Linked DNA regions of Homo sapiens: region 1 is linked to region 2. Evidence: fine-mapped expression QTL. Tissue or cell type: whole blood. Region 2 holds a variant in brackets; the other region holds the start of a gene. All regions are shown on one strand. Distances are from middle to middle. Region 1 holds the start of CPNE2 (copine 2). Region 2 overlaps CPNE2 (copine 2).

Region 1 (8,000 bases), 33 kb before region 2:
GAGGATTGAGTGATTTCACCTAGGCAGCCGCTGAGCGGCTGGGATTCAAACTCATGGCCATGACTCCATGCCTGAGGTTTGACAATGGAGTCAGCCACACCTGCCTCTAACCAGGAGATCCTTGAGGGGATCCCTCAAGGATCCTGATATGTTTCCATATCAACCCCCTGTGGCACATGGTATTTTCTAAAGACAGCCATCACAGTATCTTCCGTCCCACATGCTCTTCCTATTATGTGACGGTGACACCCCTCTGTGACTACAACAGAAGTGACATTATGTGACTCCCAAGGCAAGGGCCTGAAACAGATGATAACGCTTCCACTTGCCTCTCTTGAAATGCTCACTCATGGAACCCTATGCCATGCCACTAGGAAGCCCAGGCTACAAGGAATGGTCTCAGGTAGGTGTTCCAGCTGACAATTCCAGCTGAGGTTCCAGATGACAGCCAGCGTCCAGTGATAGCCATATGTTCAAGAAAGCCTTCTAGACAATTTCAGCCACCACCATGATCTGACTGCAACTGTATGGGAAACACTGTGCAACACCTGCCCTCGATGAGCCCTGAGGACCCCGGAAGTGTGAGGGATAAGTTTTGGGGTGATCTGCGATGCAACATAAATAACTGGAACACCCTCCCTCCGCCAGTCCTCACACACTCCTGGCCCAGCCAGATCCCTGAACAGCTGGCGCTCCTTCAATGTGTCTTTCATTCACGAGCACACTGACATGCATGGGCAAACCTGGGTATTCTGATCCGTTTGTCCAAACAGCCTGGACTGTGAAAATAAACACCCAGATGGCAGGTGTTGACACACATACCCTGACATGGGTCTATTTCGGGGCCTTCAGGCCTCCCACTGTGCACTGAGAGGTCTCCACCTGGGCAGGGAAAGACTTCGTTTAACATTTTGCAGTCTTGTGTTGGGTGTGGAATGAGGATAAAGCATGTAGAATCAACCTGTGATGGATCCTTGGCCTTAATCAACTTCTTCAGGGCTCTCCTGATCCCTGGCCTTTTTTTTAAAGATAGCTTTATGGGGATATAATCCATACACCATGACATTTGTCCTTTTAAAGTGTGTAAGTCAGTGGTTTTAAGAATACCTACAGTTGTGCAATCATCACTATAATCTAACTTTTTTTTTTTTTCATACAGGGTCTTGTTCTGTCACCCCGGCCGGAGTGCAGTGGTGTGATCATGGCTCACCACAGCCTCAACCTCCTAAGCAATCCTCCCACCTCAGCCTCCTAACTGGGACTACAGGCAGGTACCACACCCGGCTAATTTTTTTTTTTTTTTTGGTAGAGATGGTGGGGTCTCACTATGTTGCTCAGGCTGGTCTTGAACTCCTTGCCTCAAGTAATCTGTCTGCCTCGGCCTCCCAAAGTGCTGGGATTACAGGCAGGACCGCACTCTGCCTAGAATCTAACTTTAGAACATTTTTTATCATCTCCCAAAGAAACCCTTTGCCAATAGCAATCACTCCCCATTCTCCACTCCCCGGCCGAGGCAACCACAAATCTGCTTTGTCTGTTTGTGGATTTGTCTATTCTGGACATTTCATCTAAATGGAGCCATGTAATATTTGTCTGAGACTGGCTTCTTTCACTGGGCATAATATTTTCCAAGTTTGTCCATACTGTAGCATGTATCAGTACTTCCCACCTTTCTTTTTTTCCTTTCTTTTTTTTTTTGGAGGGGGGATGGAATCTCCCTCTGTCACCCAGGCTGGAGTACAGTGGCGCAATCTTGGCTGCAACTTCCGCCTCTTGGGCTCAAGTGATTCTCCTTCCTGCCTTCCGAATTGCTGGGATTACAGGTTCTTGCCACTACGCCTGGCTAATTGTTATATTTTTAGTAGAGACAGAGTTTTGCCATGTTGGCCAAGCTGGTCTTGAATTCCCGACCTCAAGTAATCGCCCGCCTTGGCCTCCCAAAGTGCTGGGATTACAGGTGTGAGCCACCACAACTGGCCAGTAATTCGTACCTTTCTATGGCTGTATAATATTCTATGTTGTGTGGATATACCACATTTTGTTTTTCCATTCATCAGTGGATGAACATTTGCGTGGTTTCCACTTTTTGGCTATTATGAATAATGCTGCTACGTACATTTGTGTATGTTTTGTGTGGCCATATGTTTTCATTTCTCCCGGGTAGATATCTAGGAGTGGAATTGCTGTGACCCCTGGCCTTTGTACTCTGCCTCCTTGGCTAGGGATCTAGTATCTTCCTTGACAGGCCCAACTATCTCATCCTTCAGGTTTCTTAAAGGAAGCCTCGCTGACTCCCATGGCTGAGTTGGGTCTTCTGTGCCACCCTACCTCCAATCTTTGCACATTTCATATGGTGATATGATGGCCTGGGTCCTGATCTTGGCCCCCACAGGTGAGCAACTTGAGAGAGACTATCTGCTTTGGTTCACCACTGTCCATCCCAGTGCCTGGCTCTCCTGCTGCTGGAAAGACAAGAGACAGATTCTGAGGCCAGAGCAATCAGGAAAGTCTTCCTGGAGGAAGCGGGGCTGGAGTTGGGTTGATAGGTTGGTTTGCCCCAGAGCGGGGCAGAGGGCTTTGATTGGCTTCGGTGGAAGAAAGGTGAAGAGAGCTTGGAGAAAGGAAAGATGGATGGGTGACAGGCAGGCAGAGAACAAAGCTCAGAGCCCCGGGGGCTGTTTAGTCTCGGCCCCTGTAAGGCTGCAAAGTGCCAGTGACTCAGACGTGGAGGGAGGCTCACAGGCTGCAGCGCGCGAGGCTCCCACATTAACCCTCACCTGCCTGGAATCGAAAAGCCACAATGGAAGCACTCGGCATTAACCCTCAGCTGCCCAGTCCTTGAGCCCCAGGGCCAAGGGCTGTGGACATGGCCTTGAGATCCCCGGGAAAGCCCCGCCCCCCAGAATCTGGTTACGTGAGGCTCAGCCTTCTGATGCCCGGTGGTGAACTTGCCCAGAGAGCACCTAAATACCGCGGAGTGGCCAAAGGCTTGAGCGCCCAGCGACAGACAAGTGTCCTAAGAATTGGTGCCTCTTCTAGGGAAAAGGAGGCCTGGGCTCCAAGGCCTTAAAGACTCGCCTAATTTTCCGCACGGATGAGTAGACCCAGGCCCAGTTCGGATCCGTCTTTATCTTATCGTCTGTGTCAGAGAAATATGTCATATTTCCAATCTCTGGCGGCAAGAAAATGCCGAGCTCTTTTGCTATTGAAAAAAAAAAGGGAAGAAAACACTGCGGCCCTAATCCTGCCCAATACAACCCAGAACCCAGCCTTGGGTGTTGCCCCGAGGGCGCAGCGCCGCTCCCATCGGCGCTGGGGGTCCAAGCGGCCCTGGGGCCCCGCAGGCCCGGGCTGAGGCCACCCCTCTGTTCCCGCGTCGGTGGCCCTGAGCGCACGGCGCTCGGAACTCGGAGGTGCCAGAGGCTCGGGCAAAGCAGGCCTGGGGAGGGCGCGAAGCCGCGTTGTTCCGATCCTCAGCCACCTGAGTCCCAGCCTGGAACCTTCGGACCCTCGCGTTCGGCCCGAACGTTCGGGCCCCCTCGGTGCCAGGCGCCCCGAGTGCCGCGGCGCGCCGGGCGCGGGCTGGGAGCGGCGGACTGCGGGCGGGACAGCGCCCCCGCTCCTCCCGTGGGAGAGCGCGCGCCCCTCCAGGAAGCTCCCGCCTCGCCTCCCACTTCCCTCCCCACTCCCCTCCTCGGCCGGAGGGAGGAGCCCGAGCCGCCGCCGCCGCCGCCGCCCGCCCGCCCGGCCCGGGAGGAGGACCGGACCCCGAGCGGCTGGGAGCGCACGCGAGCGGGCCGTGGCCGCGCGGGCAGCGCCCTGAGCCTGTCCCGCGCCCGCGGGCCCGGCCGAGCAGGAGCAGCTCCCGGGGATGCCCGGGCGGCTCGGAGCGCGGGCAGCGGCAGCCGTGCGGTGAGGGCGGTGGCGCCCGCGGGACCTGCGGTGAGTGGGGCCCGGGCAGGCGGGGCAGCTTGGCGTGAGTGCCCAACTTCGGCCTTGGGGCTGGGCTCTTTGATCCAGCTGCGGGTCCGAAGGAACCCGGGTTCCGCCTCGGGGGGCTGCGGCGCTCTAGCCCCCGCCGCCAGCGCGAACCCGGACTCCGGCGCTTCGGTGACTCAGCTCCGACCCGGCCACGCGGGGGCGCCCCGCCGGCTCCCGGACTGCGGGGAAGGGCGGGCGGGGTCCCTGGGGAGGGGGGCGCCCTCGGGGGTCCGAGCCCAGCTGCTTTGGGGACCCTTCCACCCGCCCCGAGGGGCTTGGAGGGCGTACGGGAGGTGGAGACCCGCCGCTGCCGCAGCTGCTGAAGGCGTGAGGTCGCCCTGGCTCTCGGCGGGCGCTGGCTCCTCTCCGCTCCCCTCTGCCCTCCTCCCACCCCTCAACACCCACCCCCTGCCCCAGGCAACTGCCGGAGGGCCGGCTCCCAGCCCCGGTACTGGGAGCGCAGAGGGGGAGTGGAGCTGGGCAGCTTCCCAGAAGTCGGAGTGTGTTTGCAAACTAGTTTTTGCGAAAAAGCTGTCTGGCACCTGTGTGTTTAAAGGGGGTGTGGGGGTGGGCATGGAGAGAGCGGGCGAACAAGGCCCTCTCTTATTCCCCGTTTCTCACAGCGATGCTCCTCTGAAAATAGAGGGGTCTTACACCCTCTTCCCTGCTCTTCCCACCCCATCCCCCAGCCTCGCTCCACGTCCCCCCGAGTTCAAGAAGCTCTCCTATGGGGAAGGGGCTGCTTCAAAGGGGGCTGTGATTTGCCCAAGGTCACAGATGCTGCTGGCTCTGGTAGCTAATAGGGTGTTCATCTTGCATCTGAATCCCCTGCCCCATATGTACTGGGGGAAGGGACAAGGGGTCTGGAAGAATGATCTTCCAGACAAAACGCCCTTTTTTTTGTCTGCCTTAGTTTTTTGCTCCCTTAGAGGTGTGTGCTGTCATCAAAGGTTGGGGGGCTTTTTCTGCCCCTTGGGCATCCACAGCTTCACGGACTGCAGGGAGCCCATGGTTTTCAGGAAACAGGCGGTGTGCGCAGATTGTAATCCCTGGCAGCTGCAGCCTGCCCTGATGGGGAGGCCTGGGAGACCTGGGTCTGAACCCCACCTATGACCAACAGGGAACTTGGCCCAGACCCTCCCCCCCTGTGGCCCTCTGGGTCACCATCTGTGAAATGGGCTGATGTTCCGGGGCCTGCCTCCTGGAGAATGGACACAGCATGAAGGCGTGGTTTTATGGCATTCCGCCTGGCATAGGTCCAGGTGAGCTCCAGGACCGCCCCAGCCAGCTGGATTGGAAGGGGTCACCCAGGCAGGTTTCTCCATGGAAAGAACCAGGGACGAAGGATGTGGACGCTTGGGTTCGTTTTGCGGCCGTCACTTCCTGTCTGCGTGCCTTGTCACCCCTTGGACTTGGGGGGTTTTCTGTCTGTAAAATGAGGCAAACTGTGACATGATCCAGCTTACAGTAGGGCGGCTGGGAGGCTGGAACTGGGGAACAGGGAGCAGACGTTCTGCAAGTAGGGAGCACTTCATGAGTGGCAAGTGTGGTGTCTCTGGTGGTGTTCCAACGGACACTCCCTCTGGAATGTCATGAGAATTAAAAACTGGGGCATAAGGGAAGAAGATGGCTGAGAATGGAGCCTCGGTTTCTATGTCTGTAAAACAGTAAGTACTGGACCCCATCTGGTCCTCCTCCCAGTCCTCAGTTTTTATATCTATACACCTTCATATTCTTTTCAGGTAATTGTGTATTTCTGCAAAGGTAGGATTAAATTAGATTGCAAGGACTCGGGTGCCAGCACTTATTGGTACGTGGTGAGTGCCTGGTTAACTGTCATTGTCATTATCCATGGGAATATTAAGAAGCCTGATGTGGGTGACTGCATCCAGGATCCTTTGTGGGGTTGTCTCAGGCCAGCTTGCTCCTCCCCCTCCCGTCAGGACTTCTGGGCTGTTCTAGGGGCAGGGGCCTGGGGTGAAAGAAGACCAGGAGAAGTGGTAGGTCTCATCCAGGTGTCCCCATTTCCCCACATCTGGCTGGCCTCACAGGGCTCTAAGGAGTGAACAGAAAACAAAAGAGCACTCTCTAGTAATTTTCTCCCTCCTGTCAGAGCAGGAGGCATCATCGCCAGGCACGGTCCCGATCTGAGAAGCCCTCAGCTCAGGGTCAGGGTGCCCCCAGCCTGATGGAGGTCTCTGTCCCTCTCCCCTCCCCTGAACCTTATTCATAGATGGCACTGGGGCTACCGAATCAGGAGCAAAACACCTTGAGGACCCAGCTCCTTCCCCCTTGCAGAATATGGCCTCAGGGAGTGGAGGTGGGATCTCCCCCAACCCTGCCAGACACGGTGGTGTGGGCTCTGTGGGAGCTGGGATGCCAGGTCACCCTGTGATCTTGGCAGGCAGCATCTAGAAAAGTCCACAATCACACATCTCCCCACCTCCCTGTCCAGAAGGGAGGACATAGGGGTCCCACAGTGCCTGAGGACAGAGCCCAGGTTAGAGGCGCCTCCTGGCTCACATCCCAATGTCTTCTGCCCTCATTGGGCCACTGGACCTCGGCTGTCACTCCCATGGCAGAGTCAAGAAGACTGCTGTTCCATACCCTGGAATATTTCTTTCTTTCTTCCTTTTTTTATTTTTTATTTATTTATTTTTTGAGACAGGATCTTGCTCTGTCACACAGGCCGGAGTGCACTGGTGTGATCTCAGCTCACTGCAACCTCCACCTCCCAGGTTCAGGCGATTCTTGTGCCTTAGCCTCCCAAGTAACTGGGATCACAGGTGCACACCTAGCTAATTTTTGTATTTCTAGTAGAGACGGGGTTTTGCTATGTTGGTTAGGCTGGCCTTGAACTCCTGGCCTCAGGTGATCCACCCACCTCGGTCTCCCAAAGTGCTGGGATTATAGGCATGAGCCACTGTGCCCGACCATGGAACATTTCTTACTTATCTGGCCACACTTGCTCTGAGGTCTGCAATGAGACTGACTAGTGAGATTGTGTCACCATCCCTCCTCACTGCTGCATCTCCTGGTTGTATTTTTCTTGGGGCATTTGCCACTCTTTAAAACCATCTTCTTTACTCATTGGTGCACCAGCTTATCTGCCTCCCTCCCCAAAGGGTGTCAGATCCACAAAAAGGCAAGAGCAAACAGTGTCTGTCTTGTTTAGGGCCATGTCCCAGCACTTAGAACAGTGCCTGGCACATTGTAGGTGCTCAGTAAATCCTTGTGTGAGGAATGACTGCACCTGCCCCTCTTTGCAGCCTCCTGTTAAATGAGTCTGTGATGTTGAGTGATGGATCCTGGGAGAATTACGAGCTTGCCCTCTTGAGTCTCTGGAGGGATCTCTGGCTTACCATACTGAGTGCTGGAAGGAGCATGGCCTTGCTGACAGCTGGATTTCAAACTTGTAGCCTACAGAACTGTGAGAGAATCTAAGCCATCCAGTGTGTGGTGCTCAACTAGCCCATGGCCAACCAGAGTTTGAAACCCAGTAGCTCAGCTCCCAGCATTCACTGCACTCTTACAATACACTTTTCTCAGGTTGGGCATGTCTCTGAAAGACTGATGGGAGAGCCGGGCGTGGTGGCTCACACCTGTAATCCCAGTACTGAGGGAGGCCAAGATAGTCAGACCACTTGAGCCCAGGAGTTCAAGACCAGCCTGGGCAACATGGCAAAAACCCGTCTTTACCAAAATAAAAAATAAACAAAATTAGCTGGGTGTTGTGGTGCATGCCTGTAGTCCCAACTACTTGGGAGACTGAGGTGGGAGGATTGCTTGAGCCCAGGAGGTCGAGGCTGCAGTGAGCCATGATTGTGCCACTGTACTCCAACCTCGGTGAAACAGTGAGACCATGTCTCAAAAAAAAAAAAAAAAAAAGACTTGGGGTCCAACCAAAGGAAAGAGGGATTGCAGGAGTTGTCTGCTGGGAGTTGGGCATATTCCCTCCTGTGTTTTAGAGAGGGGACAGCCAGGGCACATCAGGCAGGCCAGATATCCTCAGCTCCTGA
Region 2 (8,000 bases):
GGGCCAGGTTTCAGGCCACACAGAAGGGACAGACAGAGCACTGGATCTGGAGCCAGCGAGGCCTGTGTTCAAATCCCGGCTCTGCCACATCCTGGCCCTATGGCCTTCTGAGCTTCACCTCACCAGGCCTCAGTCTCCTCATCTGTGGAATGGAGATATTAACGAGGCAGAGCATGTCCAGGGTTACTCTTCTCTCACATTCCTGTGTGGAGGCCAGGGAAGGCACGAGCTGACCTTCCAGGGCCTGTCCTGGTGGGAGAATTGTCATTGCGAGTTGCTGCCGCCCACGGTGGGCATGCAAGGGGCAGAGGACATTGGGTGGGGACACCCTGTCCTCTCTGGCATCAGCGTCACTGTGACTCCCATGGTACAGCCGGGGCCACTGAGGCCCAGAAAGGCAATGAAGTTCATGTCAGCAGTGGCCAGGCTGTGGGTGGGGGCCAGAAGACCTGGTGGGCAAATAACTGCTGGATCTGGCAGAACATTAAGGAAGGCAGCCTGGGGCAGGAGAGCAAGAGACCTGGGCTCAGGGCCTGACAGCTCAGGAGTCTGGCCGCTGCTCTCCACCAGCAGGTGGATCCCAGACTCCCACCTTATTTGGAGCCTCGTCTGGCTAGGGTTTACACGAACATTCAGTGGTGTCACGACAAAAAAGCACTCCGTTAAAGGTCAAGATGTCAGGTTGCAGCCTTGTGATGGATGGTCCTTGTTTCTGAAGTTTCCATCATTCACATCACTTTTCACAATTTCTGGCACCTGCCTTACTTATTTTTTTGAATCAGTCTTTCTTCCCTGTATTATTGTTTTTTGTTTTTGTTTTTGAGACAGAGTCTCACTGTGTTGCCCAGGCTGGAGTGCAGTGGCGTGATCTCAGCTCACTGCAACCTCCGCCTTCCAGGTTCAAGGGATTCTCCTGCCTCAGCCTCCCAAATAGCTGGGATTACAGGTGCATGCCACTACGCCTGGCTAATTTTTGTGTTTTTAGTAGAGATGGGGTTTCATTATGTCGACCAGGCTGGTCTTGAACTCCTGACCTCAAGTGATTTGCCTGCCTTGGCCTCCCAAACTGCTAGGATTACAGGAATGAGCCACTATACCTGGCCTGTTTCTTTTCTCTTTTTTTTTTTTTTTAACTTAAATACATTTATTTAGAAAGAGATTATTAGAACTCTACCAAAATTAAAAGATCTGCCTTCTTTGCCAAAAAGAGACAAAGACCATCAAAACAACTTCTAGAGGAAGGCCTTGAGCTGGAGGCCTGCTCTTTCTCTTTGTTAAAAAGGTAGATTAATAAGGGCCAGGAGAAGGTAAGTACCTAACAGTGACAAATTGAGACACTCTGTGTCAGGTAACTGACACTGGGCCCTGGCACCCTGCCTGGAACCAGCATGTGTCTGTGTATCTGTGGGGTGTGGGGGTCTCTGTGAGTCCCCCACCCATTAGGAACCATTGCACTGAAGGCTTTGTTATAGAGAGATTTGGGTTTTGTTGTAATTAGATCAGGCCCATCAGCTTTTTTTGACCTCCTTGTCCCTACTGAGGTTGCAGGACATAGAGCAACAACTCCCCCATGGGGAGTGTGACCAAGTCAAGGGGACCCACTGACTCATCCGCTTTCTTCCAGATAAACCGAGACTACTCCTTCCTTGACTACATCCTGGGAGGCTGCCAGCTCATGTTCACCGTAAGGCTCTCCCCGCTGGCTCCCTCTGCACCCCCATCCCAGTGAGGGTCCTCCCTGAAGACTTGGGCCACTAGTGCAGCCAGAGGGACTTAGGGTAGACTTCAGGAAGGACTTCCCTGGGGCAAAGAGTGTGTGCGGCCTAGTGAGGAGGGCATAAGTGGGCTGTCTGGTCCTGCTGGGTGTGCCTGAGTTGGGGCTTAACTACAGGTCAGAGCACAGCTGCACAGCTTTCAGTCTGGTGGCTACACTCCTTCTGCGGGTGGAGGAAAACAAATTCCTCCTCACTGGCCACAAGGCCTTCAGCGATCCCTGCCTCCTTCATCTGCAGCCTCCTTCCTCCTTGCTCACTGGGCTCTAACCACACTCTTCCTCTGTTTGCCCAACATGCCAAGCTTTGCTTCATGTTAGAACTTTGCATTTGCTGTTCCTTCTGCATTTGTTGTTCCCTCTGCCTGAAACACTTCCCCAGAACCTTTGCATGGCTGCCTACCTGCCATTTTTCAGGCCTGAGGAGGTAACGGAGGTCACCTTCCAGGGAGCCCTCCCTCCCTCAATGCCTTGCTGCTCCTCTGTCATATCTTCCTATTTTCTTTCTTTTCTTTTCTTTTCTTTTCTTTTTTTTTTTTGAGACAGCGTCTCATTCTGTCACGTGGTCTAGAGTGCAGTGGCACGATCTCAGATCACTGCAGCCTCCACCTTCAGCTCTCAGTTGATCCTCCCACCTCAGCTTCCTGAGTAGCTGGGATTACAGGTGCATGCCATCATGCCCAGCTAATTTTTGCATTTTCTGTAGAGATGGGGTTTTGCTATGTTGCCCAGGCTGGTCTCAAACTCCTGGGCTCAAGCGATCTGCCCACCTTGGCCTCTCAAAGTGCTAGGATTACAGGCATGAGTCACTGGGCCTGGCCCTCACTATTTTCCTATTTTCTGGGCACTTGCCGCCCCGAGATTCATATGCATTTGTCGCTTCTCCCTGATCGTCGCACCCACTGGAATGTGAGTGCTTTTAAGTGTGGGCACTTTGTTTATTTTGCTTCCACTCCAACCCCAGCATATCACACAGTAACTGGCACATAGCAGGTGCTCCATCATTTCTCGTTGGAAGAATGAACTGCCACCTTGCCTGTGGCCTGGAGTCTTTGCCCCACAGACTCTGTGCCACTCATCCTGGCTTTGCTTCCTCACCCCAAGGGAGCCTCAGGCCCAGAAGGGAGGAAGCTGCTGGGGTGCCACGCTCTGCCCACCTCCCCATGTTGTCTCACCGTTCCCCATCACCACCCCTAGATCCTAATGGGAAATGGAGGGCATCACAGGATGCCATGGAGTCAGAGGATTGGCCTTGCTGACTTCTGACCCTGCTGCCCACCACTGCCCCCTCCCCTGCACAGAGGCCAGGCCCTCCTGTTCCTCCTGCACGAGTTTGTTCATTCAGCGAACTCACACTGACTGCCTCCTTTGTGCCGGGCTCTAGGCTGTGTCCCTGCAGCGGTCCCTCAAGGACTAAGACATGCTGCCCCTGACCTGGGGGAGTGACCCTCTAGCCATGTGAGGATTTGGATGGGTGGCCCCTTCTCTCCTACCCCACAGCAACTGAGTTCCCATGTAGCCAAATCTTCCCCGGGGTCCTACTTCTAACCCTCCCCTGCTGGGCAGGGGTTGTTCTTGCCTACCCCTCTGTGCCCTTTCTCCAGGGATTGGGCTGGGATTCTCTGGGGCTGAGAGAGCAGGTAGAGCCCTAGTCCCTGCCTGCCCATCAGCCCCGAGTCCCTGTTAATAAGCACCTGCCTTGTCTGCTGTTCCCAGCCCTGGGCCAGGCTTCTCCAGAGTACGTGCTGCGGTGAGCTCCCAGCTGATCGGGGAGACGGGCACTGCTCTACCAGGCAACCCCAGGTCCCAGGCCCCTTGGTGGTCTGAGGGATAATGGGGAGATGGCTTGGGTTGGGGGTGAGGTTATCTGGGAAGGTTGCAGTGGAGCAGTGGCATCTGAGTTGGGCCTGGAAGATGGAGCAAAGTTAGACGGGAAGAAACGATAGCCTGGCTCTGCATGCAGAGCGAAGCTTATGAATAAATGCCTGCATATGGGAACAGATGAATGTGTGGATAGGGATAGTAAGGAGAAAAAGGAATCTGGGACTGTACGTTAGTCTCTTATGTCATCACATCTAGGCAGTGGACTTTATGCTTGGGCAATAGAGAGCCACAGATGGCATTAGAGCAGAGGAGTGATACAATCAGAGCATTTCTAGGTTTCAGACCATCTTATTGTGGGGAGGGCTGGGAGATGAGTGGGCTTCCCATGTCCCATCTACCTCTCCTATTCCCTGGGAGTGGGATAGGGTGCTGGGGTCTCTGGCCCCACTGGGTGGCCTTTTTCTCCACTCTGCAGGTTGGAATAGACTTTACAGCCTCCAACGGGAATCCCCTCGACCCTTCCTCTTTGCACTATATCAACCCTATGGGCACCAACGAATATCTGTCGGCCATCTGGGCTGTTGGGCAGATCATTCAGGACTACGACAGGTAAGGTTGGAGAGGGGCTCTGAAGGTCAGCTAGGGTTCCATCCAACCTGGGAAGCTCAGTGTATCAAAGCTAGAAGGGACCCAGAGATCATCAAATCTAGGAATGGACAGCAAATGGCA[T/C]AGGTGCAGTTATTACCCATTCCCATACCCTTGGCAGACATTGCTAATCAATTGCTGAACTCTAACCTGCCAAGCGCAGATTCAAACTGGGATCGTTTTCTACACAGTACACCAAGTAGCCAGTAAGAAAATGAATCATGATGGAAGATTAAACTCATTCATTATTGCTGCATCCTCTCCTTTTAGAGCTGGGGAATGGGAGGCCTGGGGTGGGAGTGGAAAATTTGTTCCAGGTCCCGCAGATCATGGGACCAGAGGCCAGCCATTCTGGTTCCTGGGCCTGGCGCCTAGTTCCCTAATGGTCTCGCTTCTATTGGGAACTTCTGAGGAGCAGCTAGCATGCACGGACCCTCCTCCCATGACCTTGCTTCCTGGGGACCTTTGGGTCGGGCTGGGTACCACGGAAAGTCAGTGAAGGGAAGCTGTGTGAAAGTGTGGCAGGTGTGGCTACCAACAGGATATGACATCACTGTCACAGATGGTGCTGATTGGGAGCTCCAGGTCAGAGGATGGAATGACCAGGAGGCTGACACATTGGGAACAGGGGAGGAAGAAGCAGGTGCCAGAGATTTGGCAGGAAAGACAGCAGGCTCAGGAGCCCTGTGTGGACTTGGCCTCCTAGAGAGGGGCAGCCAGGGATCTGTACAACATGCAGAGCAAGGGAGGTGGAAGTCATCATCAGCATGGTTGGGTGGAGTCCCAGGTGTCCAGCTGCCCATTCAGCCCATCACCGAGCTGTCTAATGGGCATTAAGACTTAGCATGGCCCCAGTGAGCTCTAGATGCCTGGCTGAGCCACCATCACTTTGTGCCCAGATCATTTCATTAGCTTCCTCATCAGTCTCCCTGCTTCTGCCCTGGCCCCCAGCTGTGTGTCCCCTCCACGGCAGCCAAAGGGATCCTTAGTAGATGTCTGTTGAGTGCACATACAAATGAAATGTGGTCCCTGTCCTCAGGGAGTTCTCACTTAAAGAGGAAGATAAGGAAGAAATCGTCGGAGTTCTGAGAGACCAGTTTACATGTGAAGCAGGAGCTATGGGAGCACAAAAAGAGAGGCATTTTAGGGTATCAGGGAAATCTACAGAGCGAAGGGGCCATTTTGATTGGGCCTTAGAGGATGAGTAGGAGTTTGCTAGAGGAAACAGATTAGGGAGAGATGTTACAGATGGGGGCACAACAGCATTGAAGTTGGAATGTGAAGGTACCCTATGTGTTTGGGGAATAGCAAGTGGCCAGTGGCCAGGGCTAGGGGAGTGGGGTGTGAAGGGGCGTGGGTGGAAGGAGATAAGACTAGGCTCTGGGACTGGATGACACAGGACCTTGAATGCCACAGGAGGGTTCTCATATTAGTAGAGTTTTCCCCAGCTATGAGCAGGAGGCTGAGAGACAGCCAGTACATTCATTCTACTTCCATCTTGACCTCCTGACCTTGGTTTAGTGGCTGGCTGAAGTCTCAGTTTGAGAAGGATCTAGAAGCTGTGCCCAGGCCCATTGGTTAGAAGTACCATTGTCGTGTCTGCCACAGGTATAGATGTGGTCAGGCCACATGTTCACCAGGTCCCCAGAGGTGGGTTGGGCTCATTAGGTAGATGATCCTAACAGCTTTTTCTAGAGGTGGTGAGCTCCTCCTTTCTGTCCTTGGAAGTGTATGAGGCAGAGTGGGCCCAGCCCTGGGCAGAGGGTCGGGTGGTGTCCTCAGGTGTCTTACAGTGTGTTTCTCTTCTCTCTCTGATTAGTGATAAGATGTTTCCAGCTCTGGGATTCGGGGCCCAGTTACCCCCAGACTGGAAGGTGAGTGAAACCGGAGTTAGTTTCCTTTTGGTTGAGATGGGGTTTGTGTGTGTGGCCTCTCGGGGATCAGCTCTGGAAAGGTCTTGGGCTGGGGCCCTGTTGCCCTGCCTTCCCTGTGTTCACCCCAGGCCACGCTCATTTCTCAAGCCTGATCCTTGGGCAGGCACTGAGGCTGTAACGGGGCAGCACGTTATGTTCTCTGTTTATGAGACCCATGTGGAGTGGGGGAGACAGATAGGATTGCCAGATGTCGCAAATCAAAATACAAGACACCCAGTTAAGTTTGAATTTCAGGTAAACAATGTTTATTTTTATGTGTTTATTTTTATTTATTTATTTATTTAGAGACAGAGTCTTGCTCTGTTGCCCAGGCTGGAGTGCAGTGGCACAATCTCCACTTACAGCAACCTCCGCCTCCCAGGTTCAAACAATTCTCCTGCCTCAGCCTCCCGAGTAGCTGGGATTACAGGTGCCCACCACCACCCCGCAGCTAACTTTTGTATTTTTAGTAGAGAGTTTTACCATGTTGACCAGGCTGGTCTCAAACTCCTGACCTCAGGTGATCCACCGGCCTCAGCCTCCCGAAGTGCTAGGATTACAGGCCTGAGCCACTGTGACCAGTGCAGATAAACAATTTTTAAAGTATAAGTATGTCCTGAATATTTCATGGGACATACTTATACTTAAATCATCCATTGTTTATCTGAAATTCAAGGTTTTGTATGGATCTAGGGGTACAAGTATAGTTGTATTACGAGGACGTATTGTGTGAAATATGGACTTTTAGTGTATTCATCACCTAAATAATGTACATTGTACCCAGTAGGTGGCATTTCATCCGTCACCCCTCCATCCTCTCGCTGTGTGGAGTCCTCAGTGTCTGTTATTCCCCTCTGTGTGTCTGTTCTGTGTGCACCCATTGTTTAGCTCCGTCTTATAAGGGAGAACATGCAGTTTTTTGTTTTCTGTTTCTGAGTCATAGTGGGCATCCTGTATTCTATATGGCAACACTAAAGACAGGTAGTGTCATCGGTGCTGAGGTGGGGGCACCGTAGGCCTGTGGGGAGCCGAGGAGGTAACCCAACCCAGCTTGGGGCCATCAGGCTTCCTGGAGGGGGCAAGCTCTAAGCCAAGAGGGGAAAGGGAAGTAGCAGAGTGACTAGAGGTGGCAGTGGGGCAGGGGGAGCCTTCAGGGCAGAGAACAGACTGTGCGAAGCCTGCAGGACGAGCTGGAGGAACTGGCAGAGGTGGGTGATAGACCCTCCATTGGAGGTGAGCAGGGTGGAGACAGATGTGGGCGTTAAAGGGCCACGGGGACCCCTGCAGGGACCACATAGGGGCTCATCAGCAGATTGGCATTTCTAAAGGCCTCTCCTGGCTGCTGAGTGGGGCGTGGCTAGGGCGAGAGTGGGCAGAGTGGAGGGTGGAGAGAAGGGGCGAAGGCAAGGAAACTCAGGGCAGAGGCCAGGACTTTCTGTGTGACCAAGTGAGTGTGGGCCGAAGAGGTCACCAAGATTTCCAACTGGGCACTGAGGCGGGGGTGGTGCTGCTTACTGAGATGAGGAACGGGGTGGGTGCTAGGCTCAGCAGGGGAGATGGTAAGGTGGGAGTCCCAGGAGAAAGGTGGATGATGGCTGGGCACAGTGGCTCACGCCTATAATCCCAGCACTTTGGGACGCTGAGGCAGATGGATCATTTGAGGTCAGAGAGTTTGAGATCTTCCTGGCCAGCATGGCAAAACCCCGTCTCTACTAAAAATACAAAAATTAGCCCAGCGTGGTGGCACATGCCTGTAATCCCAGCTACTTGGGAGGCTGAAGCAGGAGAATCACTTGAACTCGGGAGGCAGTGGTTGCAGTGAGCCGAGATCGTGCCACTGCACTCCA

What was found.
Region 1: CPNE2 starts here. The variant in region 2 is fine-mapped to the expression of CPNE2 in whole blood (TOPMed, PIP above 0.99).

What each region holds. Positions count from the first base shown.
Region 1 is chr16:57,088,849-57,096,848 of GRCh38, forward strand. It overlaps CPNE2 (copine 2), which reads left to right and starts at 3,735. Exons shown (of 16, transcript NM_152727.6): 1 at 3,735-3,942. RefSeq lists silencers at 3,257-3,326, 3,347-3,596, 3,707-3,756, 3,817-4,226.
Region 2 is chr16:57,121,790-57,129,789 of GRCh38, forward strand. CPNE2 (copine 2) reads left to right here. Exons shown (of 16, transcript NM_152727.6): 10 at 1,625-1,684; 11 at 4,071-4,204; 12 at 6,060-6,114. Among named protein-coding and RNA genes, the nearest start is that of CPNE2, 33 kb to the left of the region's middle. The variant T/C (reference allele first, on the strand shown) is at 4,325.